2 separate regions of the Homo sapiens genome follow, and region 2 is linked to region 1. A link means that fine-mapping ties the variant in region 1 to the expression of a gene that starts in the linked region. Tissue or cell type: gastroesophageal junction. Region 1 holds a variant in brackets; the other region holds the start of a gene. All regions are shown on one strand. Distances are from middle to middle.

Evidence for each region. PIP is the estimated chance that this variant, and not a neighbour inherited with it, causes the effect.
Region 2: it holds the start of ZNF83, and the variant in region 1 is fine-mapped to the expression of ZNF83 in gastroesophageal junction (GTEx, PIP above 0.99).

What each region holds. Positions count from the first base shown.
Region 1 is chr19:53,191,970-53,194,726 of GRCh38, forward strand. ZNF665 (zinc finger protein 665) reads right to left here and starts at 1,389. Exons shown (of 4, transcript NM_024733.5): 1 at 1,343-1,389. RefSeq lists an enhancer at 1,205-1,354. The variant T/A (reference allele first, on the strand shown) is at 1,500.
Region 2 is chr19:52,637,173-52,639,784 of GRCh38, forward strand. It overlaps ZNF83 (zinc finger protein 83), which reads right to left and starts at 1,183. Exons shown (of 3, transcript NM_018300.4): 1 at 1,140-1,183. It also overlaps the pseudogene LOC124904757. RefSeq lists enhancers at 111-629, 630-1,147, 901-1,020 and a silencer at 1,231-1,430.

The DNA of each region.
Region 1 (2,757 bases):
CCTCCCTCATTCTGTACATCTCTCTCATTCTCTTCTTCTCTCTCCTTGTTTCTTTTCTGTGTTTCAGCCTGGGTCTCTGCTCCTCATTTTGAGCCCCTCTCTTCTCCTGCTGTTTCTCCTTCCCTCTATCCTTCTCTTCCACTTGTTCTGTTCCATTCTTGCAACTTGTTTCACCTCTTATTCCTCTTTCACCCGTCTTTTGGTTGTCCCCAATCTCCATCTATTTCTGCCTCTTTCTTCCCTTATCTCTGCTCTCCCTGTTAAATCCCCTCTTCCCTGTTTCACTTCCTTGTCCCCACTCTTTGGCACCCCCAGATCCCAGGTCTCCCCCTGCTGTGGTTCTCCCTCTGCTCTCCTTGTCACCAGCTGCCCCTTCTTGCTGTCCCAGCACCACGCTGCTCTGTCTATCCTGGCTCCAAATACCCCCTCCTCTCCCTAACTCTCCGTCTGAGGAGCTGCCCCTCTCCCTACCTTGCTGTCCTTCATCTCTCTAGACAGCGAGCTTTTCTCTACATTTCTCCAGTTGTTTCTCCATCCTGTTACTTTCTCAGCGACTTCTTTCACCCTTACTGTCTCTTTGTAAATCCTGACCCATCCTCTACTTTGCCATGTTTACTGGTTTCCCTCATTCTTTCCTCTGTCTCCGTTTTTCTACTTTTCTCTCAGCCCCCCTCTCTGTCTCCTGATCCCCTTGGCCCACACATTCACAGGGAGGGTTTGGAGTAAGACACCTGGATCCTGGAGGAGCACATTTTCCAGCGGGTGGAGCTGGGCAGGCAAGAACACCGGGTATCACAGGACAAGGCCCGGGCACCTCCCCAACGCGGGCTCAGGGGAAACGGTGACTGCGAAGGGGAGGCCTAGGGAGCAGCAGGGCCCGGCACGAGGAGGAGGGAGGTGGGGGGCGACGGCGCCTTAGGAGAGGGGTGGGGTATGCAGGATCCCAGGACCAGGCAGAGGCGCGGCCTCCCCGGGACTGGGGCTGCGGCGCTAACGCTCCAGTAGCTGACTAGGGCGAGGTTAGGGGACGGTAAAATCCTGCACCCACTTCGCAGATGAGGACTTCACAGGGCGCAGGTCAGTAAAGGGTTTTAAGCAGGAAACGGCGCAGGAAAGGAGGTGTCTGCATGGTCTGAAGGCCGAAAGACCGCGGGCAGGACCAGCCTGTGTGATTTTAACCCAAAGCGATGCGACCCCCAGAGTCTCGCGGCAAAGTCTGAATTTACATGGAATGGAGGGAGCCGTGCGGGGACTTTAAGGGCTATACGAACCCCCGGACATCGGGTACGGAGGAGCAGGGGACTCCGAAACGCAGGTTTAATCTAGATAGAGGGAAACTCACGCGGCGACTAACAGCCTTCACTCCAAGAGATCTGCTTCCGGGTTTGCAAGAAACTGCCCGCGCAGTAGGCAAAGGGGCGGGTTGCGGTGGGGAAAGGCCAGGCGTTGGGAGGGACTGAGAGCATAGGGTGGGCGGGGCCGGGGCGGGGCCTGAACCC[T/A]GGAGGCGGAGGTTGCAATGAGCCGATATCGCGCCATTGCACTCCAGCCTGGGTGACAGAGTGAGACTTCGTCTCTCCCAAAAAAAAAAAAAAACAAAACTTAGGCTATCTAAAAGTTTAACCAATGGCCAGTAATATAAGCAATCATGCATATGTAATGAAGGCGCCATAACAACCCAAAAGGAGAGGATTCAGCGGAGCTTCTGGATAGGTGAACACTGGGAGGCTCCTGCAGCGTGGTGCACCCAGGGAGGGCACCAAGGCTCAACGCCCCTTCTCCCATGCCTCACCTCACTGATCCCTTCCATCTGGCTGTTCTTCTGTCAACTTTGTAATATCCTTTATAATACGTAAATCTATGTAAAGTGTTTCCCTGTATTTTGTGAGCCACTCTAGCAAATTCGTTGAACCTGAGGAGGGGGTCAAGGGACTCCTGGATTTATATCTGATCTGTAAGCACAAGTCACAACCTCTGCTTGAGACTGGCATTGAAATGTGTGCACTATTGTGGGACTGAGCCCTCAACGTGTGGGATCTGATGCCATGTCCCGGCAAAATGGAACGGAATGAGAGAACACGCACCTGGTGTCTGTGGCAGGATTGCTTGCTTGGTGTGTGTGGGAAAACCCAGTACCTCTGGGCTAACTGTAGCATTCTGTGTTGTGAGAGAACAGTAGAAGAAACTGAATCAGTGTTTCCTATATTCTTAAATACGAATATGTGAGGTTTGTTGTTGTTTTTTTTTTTTTTTTTTTTTTTTTAGACAAGAGTCTTGCTCTTGTCGCCCAGGCTGGAATGCAATGGCATGATCTCGGCTCACTGAGCCACCGCCCCAGCGTGAAGGCATTTTTGAGCAAGTTATGTCTCCCTAATTCTGTTTTATTGTACTTTTCCCTAAGTAGTTATAATAGCCTCTAAATCTGTGTGGAGTTTTCAGTTTTGTGGACAATACAATAAATAGACAAATAAAAACCCAAACACAAGCTGATCTCTATAGAAGTGTTAGATATTATTTTCAACACACTAAGTGATACTCCGTATCTAGATAAGCTAAAGCACGAATGATGTCTTCTGAGGTGACAAGGTCCACAGTGGCTTTACAGAAACACTGGCCAGAAGTAAAAACTGTGATGATAATGGCAATAGCAATGACTGACTTTTCTGAACACTATGTGCAAGGCATTATTCGGAATACTTTACCTGTATTAACTCAAATAACAACATAATAGCCCATGAGAAAAAGATCTTTTCCTATCTT
Region 2 (2,612 bases), 550 kb before region 1:
TTCCTTCTCCCCAATCGTTCTATCGTCCTCAATCTTGATATATTTCCGCCTCTTCTCCCATCTCTGTGCATCCTCTGCTCTCCCTGTTAAATTCCGTCTTCCCTGTTATACCCCCTGTCCCCAATATGTGGAACCACAGATCCCCAGGTGTCCTCCCTGCTGTGGTTCTCCCTCTGTTCTCCTTGCCACCAGCACCACTCTGCTCTGTCTGCCCTGGCTCCAAATCCCTCCTCCTCTCCCTCACTCTGATGAGATTCCCTCTTTGCTGCCCCTCTCCCTACCTTGCTGTCCTTCATCTCTCTGTACATCTAGGTTTCTCTACGTTTCTCCAGTTACTTTTCTCCTCCTGCTTTCTTTTTTTTTCTTTTCACTTTTGCTGTCTCTTGACAAATCCATCACCCACCCTCTACTTTGCCCTCTGTTATGGGTCTTTCTCATTCTTTTCTCTGTCTCAGCTTTTCTACTGCTCTGTCTCCCAATGCCTTTGGCCGACACAATCACAGGAGGGTTTGGATAAGACGCCTGCATCCCGGAGGAGCTCGTTTTCCGGGGGCTGGAGCTGGGCAGGCAAGAACACCCCGTGTCACAGGACAGGCCCCGGGTACCTCCCCAACGCGGGTTCAGGGGAAGAGGTGACTGTGGAGGAGAGACCTGTGGAGCAGCAGGGCCCGCCACGAGGAGGGAGGTGGGGGGGAGACGGCGCCTTAAGACAAGGTTGGGGTCTGCAGGATTCCAGGACCAGGCAAAGTACGCGGCCTCCCTGGGACTGGGGCCCTGGCGCTGCGCTCCAGTGGCCTACGAAGGCGAGGGTGGGAGGCGCCCAGGGCGGGAATCCAGCTCTCGGGTGAGGACTTTAAAAAGCGAGGGGCGGGAGGAGTCAGAAAACAGTTTTGAGCAGGAAAACTACGCGACAGGAAGTGTATACATCGCCCTACAGCAGAAAGACCGGGGACAGCCCAGCCTCAGGGCGACTTTAAACCCAAAAGGAAGCGATATCCGGACTCTCATGGGGACGTCTCAATTTGTCCTGGGTGAAGGAAGAAGGGAGAGAATTTCCAGGTCTGTGGGGACCCCACGTCTCAGGTACAGCAGCGCCGGGGACCTGGTAAGCGCAGACTTAATAGAAGAGCGAAACTCACCGCCACGGTGTAACTTTCACTCCACATAATCCGCTTCCGGGTTTGCGCGCATGTGCGCGCGCAGTACAGAAGCCAGGTCTGGGCGGGGCCCGCGAGGTGGGCGGGGCCTGGATGAGGTAGGGGCGGGGTGGGAAGCCGAGAGACTTTCCCCTTTAGAACCAGCAGTGGGCGGGGCCAGGGCGGGACCTGTGAGTCTCTCAGCATCGTTCCCAGCGCAGAGGCATTTTTCGGGTTTTGGAGGCGAGACCGGCCAGGAAGGCTGAGGCATGATTCAAAAGCCCTGGAATTATCTGGAACGGGGATGCAAACTAGAATGTGAAATGCAAAGCCCTGCCTGGGCGGAAGGTACAATTTCATGCTGATAGCCCACAGAACCGAATAGAAATCCTCTCCCTTTCTATTCTCCATTCACTTGGGAGAGAGTCCACGCTGTGCTCAGCTTTAGAGACTCAGGCCACTGCCTGAGATGCAGGATGGAGTGCTCAGGCCAAGGATGGGTGAGGTCACCACCTGCGGCTTAAACACAGCTGGGATATGGGCGCGGGAGTGGGAGCCTGAGGTCCCAGCTATTCAGGAAGCAGCGGCGGGAGGATCGCCGAGCCTGGGAGTTCAGGCCAGCCTGGGCGACAAAGTAACACCCCCTCCCGCAGGGCTCCCTTCCTCGTCTCTCTCTCTCTTTTCTTTTTTATAATAAAATTTTTGATGATGTTACATAGGGATCCAACATTATTCTTTTCCACGTGGATATCCAGTTAGTTGTCCCAGCGTATTTGTGTAAGAGATCTATCAGTTTCTTTTTTTGTTTCTTGAGATGGAGTTTTGCTCTAGTTGACCAGGCTGGAGTGCAATGGCGCGATCTCTGTCTCCCAGGTTCAATCGATTCTCATGCCTCTATCTCCCAAGTAGCTGGGATCACAGGGATGTGCCACCATGCCCTGCTAATTTTGTATTTTTAGTAGAGATGGGATTTCTCCATGTTGGTCAGGTTGGTCTCAAATTTCCGACCTCAAGTAATCCGCCCGCCTCGGCCTCCCAAAGTGCTGGGATTACAGGTGTGAGCCACCGCGCCCGGCTTATTTTCTTTTATATATTTAGTTTTTTCTATTTTTTTTTTTTTTTTTTTTTGAGGCAGAGTTTTCTTTTTTGGCCAGGCTGGAATGCGGTGGCGAGATCTGGGCTCACTGCAGCCTCTGCCTCCTGGGTTGAACCGATTTTCCTGTCTCAGCCTCCGGAGTAGTTGACATTACAGACGCGCACAACCATGCCCGGCTAATTTTTGTATTTTCGATACAAACGAGGTTTCACTATATTGGCTAGGCTGGTCTCGAACTTCTGACTTCAAGTGATCTGACTGCCTCAGCCTCTGAAAGTGCTGGGATTATAGTCATAAGCCACACTTCCTGGCCCAAAAAATATTCATTTCTTTACTCTTTAAATTTTGAGAAAATATAATGGAAAACAAAAAAAATCTTC